Homo sapiens: one gene and its partner. The protein of the gene in region 2 interacts with the protein of the main gene of each other region in a biochemical or structural test. Each region holds a gene or a part of one and is shown on either strand. Other genes may lie near its edges.

Evidence for each region.
Region 1: the proteins of BTK (region 2) and GTF2I form a complex in vitro, tested with the Homo sapiens proteins (4 studies listed by BioGRID and IntAct, with this or other methods).

The regions. Positions count from the first base shown.
Region 1 is NC_000007.14:74,751,593-74,755,343, forward strand, and holds part of GTF2I (general transcription factor II-I), read left to right. Parts: intron 1-497; coding exon 498-578; intron 579-1,501; coding exon 1,502-1,585; intron 1,586-2,253; coding exon 2,254-2,437; intron 2,438-3,751. UniProt on the Homo sapiens protein: Interacts with the basal transcription machinery by coordinating the formation of a multiprotein complex at the C-FOS promoter, and linking specific signal responsive activator complexes.
Region 2 is NC_000023.11:101,358,592-101,362,342, forward strand, and holds part of BTK (tyrosine-protein kinase BTK), read right to left. Parts: intron 3,650-3,751; coding exon 3,582-3,649; intron 2,165-3,581; coding exon 1,977-2,164; intron 1,560-1,976; coding exon 1,497-1,559; intron 757-1,496; coding exon 702-756; intron 106-701; coding exon 26-105; intron 1-25. UniProt on the Homo sapiens protein: Non-receptor tyrosine kinase indispensable for B lymphocyte development, differentiation and signaling. Binding of antigen to the B-cell antigen receptor (BCR) triggers signaling that ultimately leads to B-cell activation.

The DNA.
Region 1 (3,751 bases), on a different chromosome or scaffold from region 2:
AGTTTGAGACCAGCCTGGCCAACACGGCAAAACCCTGTCTCTACTAAAAATATAAAAAATTAGCCAGGCGTGGTGGCAGGCGCCTATAATCCCAGCTACTCAGGAGGCTGAGACAGCAGAATCACTTGAACCCGGGAGGCGGAAGTTGCAGTGAGCCGAGATCGCACCACTGCACTCCAGCCTGGACAACAGAGCAAGACTCATCTCAAAAAGAAAAAAGAAAACCCATTCAAAGTTGTAGTTCAGGCTATTTCACAATTTTTAGTTATTTAATAATTGGGTGGCTCTGTGAGTGTGTGATGATCTCCTAAGTACCCCCAGGAAGAGAAAAACAGTGAAAGGCAGCCCTTCAGGGGGCATCATGTCTTCTTGAAATGATCTACCATGGAAAGAAAGAACCTTGAACAGGACTGAGATAAAACAGTCTCAGACAGCATGATTATTAGAGATGTTGACCGTGTTTTCTACAAATTCTGATTTTAAATGTATATTTTCAGGAAAAATAAATTCATCACCCAATGTTAATACTACTGCATCAGGTGTTGAAGACCTTAACATCATTCAGGTGACAATTCCAGGTATGAGTTCTCTGCTTCCATCAGAGTTTTTGGGGGTCTCTTCAGGGCCTCTTGGACTTTCCCAACTAGAGAGGTTTGCTCAGCTCATCCGGGGACTCGGATACATTACACGTTGCCTGGTGCTCCTCCCAGACTCCTACAGCAGTTGCCTTCCAAATACAGTTGCTCTCCAAACAGCAACGGCAAGTTTTGGCACTTGGCATGAGCTAAATCCTGTTAACCACCCAAATGGCTAGTCTGTTCCTTAAAAAAAGTCTATATGAGACCGGGCACGGTGGCTCACGCCTGTAATCCCAGCACTTTGGGAGGCTGAGGCAGGAGGATCGCTTGAGGTCAGGAATTCAAAACCAGCCTAGCCAACGTGGTGAAACCCTGACTCTACTAAACATACAAGAAAAATTAGCCAGGCCTGGTTGTGTGTGGCTGTAATCCCAGCTACTTGGGAGGCTGAGGCAGGAGAAGTGCTTGAACCCGGGAGGTGGAGGTCGCAGTGAGCCGAGATGGGGCCAGTGCACTCCAGCCTTGGTGACAGAGCCATACTCCATCTGGGAAAAAAAAAAAATCTATATAAAACAGCAGGTAAAGGTCTTTATAACAAGAATAAATTTGTAGCATTTTTAGTTAGGCATTATTTTAAACAATTTCAAATTTAATTAGCTCAAAGTGCTCAAATACTTAAATCATTAAAAAATGGAAAATGCTTGAAAACATTACACAGAGCTCCTAAAAATTGGGATTAAAAGTGCATCATTGAGCAGCGGCTTGTACCTGTAGTCTCGGCTACTTGGGAGGCTTAGGCAGGAGGATCGCTTGAGCCCAAGAGTTCAAGGCCAGTCTGGGCAACATCGTGAGATACCATCTCTTTACCATAAAAAAAAAAAAAAGCAGTATTTAAGTTTTGGGTTTTCTCTGAACTGTTTCAGATGATGATAATGAAAGACTCTCGAAAGTTGAAAAAGCTAGACAGCTAAGAGAACAAGTGAATGACCTCTTTAGTCGGAAATTTGGTAAGTTTTGCATTTGCAAAGTACAGTTGCTATAAGCAAAGAGATTTGTTTTAATAAGATCTTTTCAGCAGATGATGGTTGGATGGTTGTAATCCTATATAAAAGGAGTTAAAATTTAAAAGTGAGTTGTTTGTGCTAAATTTATTTAATAAGATACCATTAGTGTTACACTATTGATTGTCAGTATGAAAGTTAATGAATTTAAGGTTCACCATCTGGCAGTGTGGCTCACACTTGTAATCCCAGCACTTTGGGAGCCCGAGGCAGGTGGATCAGTTGAGGCCAGGAGTTCGAGACCAGCCTGGCCAACATAGTGAAACCCTGTCTCTACTAAAAAATTCAAAAAATTAGCCGGGTATGGTGGTGCACACCTGTAATCCCAGCTACTCAGGAGGCTGTGGCACGAGAATTGCTTGAACCTGGGAGGCAGAGATTGCAGTGAGCTGAGATCAAGCCACCACACTCCAACCTGGGTGACAGAGCAAGACTCTGTCTCAAAAAAAAAAAAAATTTAAGGTTCATATTTAAATTTGTTTGAAGTGTACAAAGACCTTAGTTAACAGCAGAGACAGTCTTTAAAATAAATGTTGATCTTGTGCTTTTGACAGGCTGTTTAAGGCGGTGGGTTAATCTGTGCTGTTGTGCTGTTTGTCTCACTGTCCCTGTAGGTGAAGCTATTGGTATGGGTTTTCCTGTGAAAGTTCCCTACAGGAAAATCACAATTAACCCTGGCTGTGTGGTAGTTGATGGCATGCCCCCGGGGGTGTCCTTCAAAGCCCCCAGCTACCTGGAAATCAGCTCCATGAGAAGGATCTTAGACTCTGCCGAGTTTATCAAATTCACGGTCATTAGGTAAGTGAGAGTTTCCTGCTTAGTCACAGGAGCGAATCTGGAGCTCATGAGGCTGACTCTTCTAAAATGCAGCCACAGGTAGTCATCGAATCCGGCTTCCTATGCTGTGCAATCAACAAATCAAAATAACTTGTGTCATCATTAGAATGTCAGATGTGCTTCTACGAACTAAGCTGACTCTTTTAATTCTTTGGCAAAGGGTTGGCAAACTAGGACTGTTTGCCAAATTCAGGCTGCCTCCTATTTTTAGAGTCTTCCTGAAACACAGCTACACCCGTATTATCCATGGCTGCTTTCCTGTCACAGTGAGTAAGTAGCTGGGACTGAGAAGGCATGGCCTCCAAAGTCTAAAATATTTACTCTCTAGCACTTTGTAGAAAAACCTTAGCTAGGCACAGTGGCTAACGCCTGTAATCCCAGCATTTTGGGAGGCCAAGGCAGGCAGATCACCTGAGGTCAGGAGTTCCAGACCAGCCTGGCCAACATGGTGAAATCCCATCTCTACAAAAATAAAACAGTTAGCTGGGCATGATGGCGGGTGCCTGTAATCCCAGCTACTCGGGAGGCTGAGGCAGGATAGTCGCTTGAACCCAGGAGGTGGAGGTTGCAATGAGCCAAGATCATGCCACTGCACTCCAGCCTGGACGACAGAGTGAGACTCCATCACAAGAAAAAAAGAACTTTGTCAACCTCTGTCTTAGGGCGCCTTGTCACAGGCTTCGGGTCAGACGGATTCAACCTTGCATCAGCCATTTGTTAGCCAGGTCACTCTGTTCTTTGTCTGTAAATGAGATTGATCGTTGTTCCCACTGAGAGTGTCAGCTCCTTCCCGTAGAGCAGGCATGATGATTGTACTCACCTCTGACACCATTGTGAGTGCCACATTCCTTCCCACGTCCTTGTCACTGTAAGAGATGCCCACCTGAGCACCAACCCCAGGTTATCTTCCCCTTTGTCTTCCAGCCCCCCAGAAACAGCTACGACTCAACCTACCCAATCATTTCATCATCAGATTGCCACTGTCTCTAGTTCAGGTCTCTTGGAACTGGCACTCAGAAATCTCATAATAAATCCTCTTGAGGCTTCTCATACACTCGTCTTCTTCCAATCTTCTTTCCCTCAAAATCTCATATTTTGGTTCCACTTCACCCACCGTCATTCTCCATATCACTCCCAGGAGTTAGGCAAAAAGCCCCTTCCGTTCTTCCGTATGTTAAACTTAGAATCACTCTGTTCCCTGCTCTGCGTTTCTATTTTTTGTTTTTCCTCCATTTACTAGTAGCTTAACACTTTCTAACAGTGTTCTTATTATTG
Region 2 (3,751 bases):
AGGGCCTTGGAATAGTAGCACTCACCCTGTGGATTTAGCAAACACAGACACTGTATATTTGCCAGCTTTGCTGGAGTCTCTGACAATGAAACCTCCTTCTTTCCCCTGAAACAACGAAAAAGAAGCTGTCTGTAGGAGGAAGTGGTGCTCACACCTGCATCCCACCTGCCCAAACTTGAGAGAGAAAATAGAACAACCCCTGATTTTACTGCCAAGTTCCACGCTTGAGCTACAGCCTCATTGCTTTTAATATTAAAAGGTGCAGGCCGGGCATGGTGGCTCATGCCTGTAATCCCAGCATTTTGGGAGGCCGAGGTGGGCGGATCACCTGAGGTCAGGAGTTCGAGACCAGCCTGGCCAACATGGTGAAACCCCGTCTCTGCTAAAAATACAAAAATTAGTCGGGCGTGGTGGCATGTGCCTGTAATCCCAGCTACTTGGGAGGCTGAGGTAGGAGAATTACTTGAACCCAGAAGGCGGAGGTTGCAGTGAGCCCAGATCACGCCACTGCACTCCAGCCTGGGTGACAGACCGAGAGTCCGTCTCAGAAAAACAAAAACAAAAAAAATGGTGTAATTGGGATCCCAGACGATGGCAGCTTTGACACTGCCTTGCCCAAAGGTAGGGGGCAGAACAGGCCCTCAGTTCAAGATCCTCACTTATGCAAGGAGAATGCTGTGTGCTAGTGGTTCCACACTTACCTCTTGCTTTAGCAGTTGCTCAGCCTGACTCCGAGTCATGTGTTTGGAATACCACCTGTGAAGGGAGAGTGCTGCTTGAGTGGCTCCTGGTCATAAGCAGATTGGAGGTTACAGCACCCTCCAGGGCTTGTCCATGTCAGTGATTCAGTCAACTCACTCAAACCCTATTTACTGAGCATCTGTCATGTGCATAGCACACTGTATCCCTTTCCCAAACCCAGGTTGGCATTGAAGATTCATGGAAATGGAGAGTAGCAGGCAAAGGCAAGCAGCAGGGAGTTGCAGGGAAGAGATCAGGGACTAGGGCACTTGAGAACAATCCACTTCCATGATTAGGGAGGAAAGGACAACAGTAGCAGTTTGACATTTTAATTCTTTCATCAGGTCGTCAACTCCTTTTTCTTTGAGTGTGATTCTTCTGGATTTGAGGGCATGGTGACCTCTCCAGCTCTCATAAATGGAGGGTGTTTGGGGGGTAAAGGTAAGACAGATACACTAATTTGAGGTGGTGGCATCATTTGATTCAGATGGTACTAATTTTAATATATATCTTGAAATAAAAAATATGTTGAAAGTAGAAAAAAGTGTATATATATATATACACACTTGTGTATGTATACATAATATACCTATATATACACCAGTGTATGTATACATATGTATACATATATACACTTGTGTGTGTTATATATATATATAAATATATATAAAATATATATAAATAAATAAATATATATATATATAGAGAGAGAGAGTTCCTCCTGGAAGATTGTGGACTGACATAAACATACTTACTCATACATTTCTATGGAGTCTTCTGCTTCAGTGACATAGTTACTAGGAATGTAGCCTTCCTGCCTGTGAAGGAAACAATGTGGCAGTTCATCCAGCACCTCCCCAGCCTCCAGGAGACAGATTCATATGCCCACGTCCCTGAGCTCAGAACAAATCTCAAATGGAGGTATATGTATCATGCACCTCCCTCAAAGACAATCATGTCTCTGATGCATGGTTAGGCAGTGAGCCAGTGAGGTGCAGAGCTTATGCACATGTTGCATTGGTTATATGTGCCCAACAACAGAGGCTCAGAGATGTGGCAGAGGCCATGTATAGGGAGCTGCACGCTGGGAAGTACTTGGAGGGAGAGCATGTTCAGTCTGGTGTGGGAAGAACAGTCTCTGATGAGGATGCTGATCACGGGAATTATGCCGCAGCACTTTTTGCGTGTAGGGAGTGGGCAGGCACCAGGCTCAGGAAGGGCTGGTGTGGACTCACCCATTTTTATCTCGTGCTCTCCACCATGGTAAGTTGCTTTCCTCCAAGATAAAATATTCATCACCCTTCCGCAGCTGTAGATCATTTGCATTCATTGGCATGTAATCATAAAGGGCCACAACCTTTTTCAGCTCACTTGTGGAGACTGGTGCTGCTGCTGGCTCAGGCGGTAGTGGCTTTTTCAAGATCTATGTAGTTAGGAGAAAAGGTAGGAGGGTTTGTCAAGATACCAAGCACTCTTCTCTTCTCTCCCAACTCTCTGGCTTACTCAAGACACCCAAATCAGGCATACTAAAATATTACTCAGCAGTCATTCAACAACCATTTTTAAGCACCAGTGCAGGAGTTCTCAGCCTTGCACACATATAAAGACCATGTATGGAACTTTTAAATTCCAATGTACTTTCGGAGGCCAAGGCGGGCGGATCAGTTGAGGCCAGGAGTTCGAGACCAGCCTGGCCAACGTGACGAAACCCCATCTCTACTAAAAATGCAAAAATCAGCTGGGCATGGTAGTGTGTGCATATAGCCCCAGCTACTCAGGAGGCTGAGGCAGGAGAATAACTTGACCCCAGGAGGCGGAGGTTGTAGTGAGCCAAGACCACGCCACTGCACTCCAGCCTGGGTGACAGAGTGAGACTGTCTCAAAAAAAAACCCACAAAAAACAAAAAACCAATTCCAATACCTAGTCAGTTTCCTCACAGACCAATTACATCAAAATCAAACTCTCAGGAATGGGACCCAAACATTACTATTTTTAAAGCTCACTAGACAAAAACCATTTATAGCTAAGGTCAGGAAACCGGCTTGGCACTAAACTTGTACGTGAATCTACTAAGTGGCTCAGAACCTTGGTTTCCTTCTTTGTAAAATGAGTATAATAATACCTGCTCTACTTACTTACAATATGTGAGAAAGGGCTTTCTAGCCCTCAAGAAGGAACCAAAAAAAAAAAAAAAACTTCTGAAGTGTTAGTGATAGGTGGTGTTAGTGCTAAGTGTTGAGTATGTTGGTATTAAGTGTTAAATTCTTCTAACTTTACTGTATGTTTGAAAATACTTTCCAGCTGGGCACGGTGGCTCACGCCTGTAATCCCAGCACTTTAGGAGGCCGAGGCGGGTTCGAGACCAGCCTGAACAACATGGTGACACCCCCATCTCTACTAAAAATACAAAAATTAGCTGGGCGTGGTGGTGCATGCCTGTAATCCCAGCTACTCAGGAGGCTGAGACAGGAGAATCACTTGAATCTGGGAGGCGGAGGTTGCAGTGAGCCGAGATCATGCCATTACACTCGAACCTGGGCGACAGAGCGAGACTCCGTCTCAAAACAAAAACAAAAGCAAAAACAAAACAACAACAAAAACTTTACATTAAAAAAATCAGGTTTTGTTCTAAACAGGTGATTGGATTACATGGTTGCTGAGAGCCTTCTATCTTTCCATCGAGGAGGAAATCCTAATTAGAAGAACAAATCCCCCATCTTAGCAAGAATACCAATTAACACTGCCAAGTCCCAGGGTAATTCTAAGACTCTAGTGTGTTCTTAGGGCTTGACTATAAGTTTCCATTTAAGCAGTGGCAGCACCCAGTTTCCCTGTATACCTGGTCCTCCTCAGGCGTTGGGGGAAGAGGCTTTTTTGTCTTCCGGTGAGAACTCCCAGGTTTTAAGCCTGCAAAACAAGAAGCCAGTGATGATATGGAATGCACTTTAGGAAAGGGGCCAAGGACAGGTTTGGTCAGGGACTTTGCCGTCCATATTGAGTGCCTTTAGG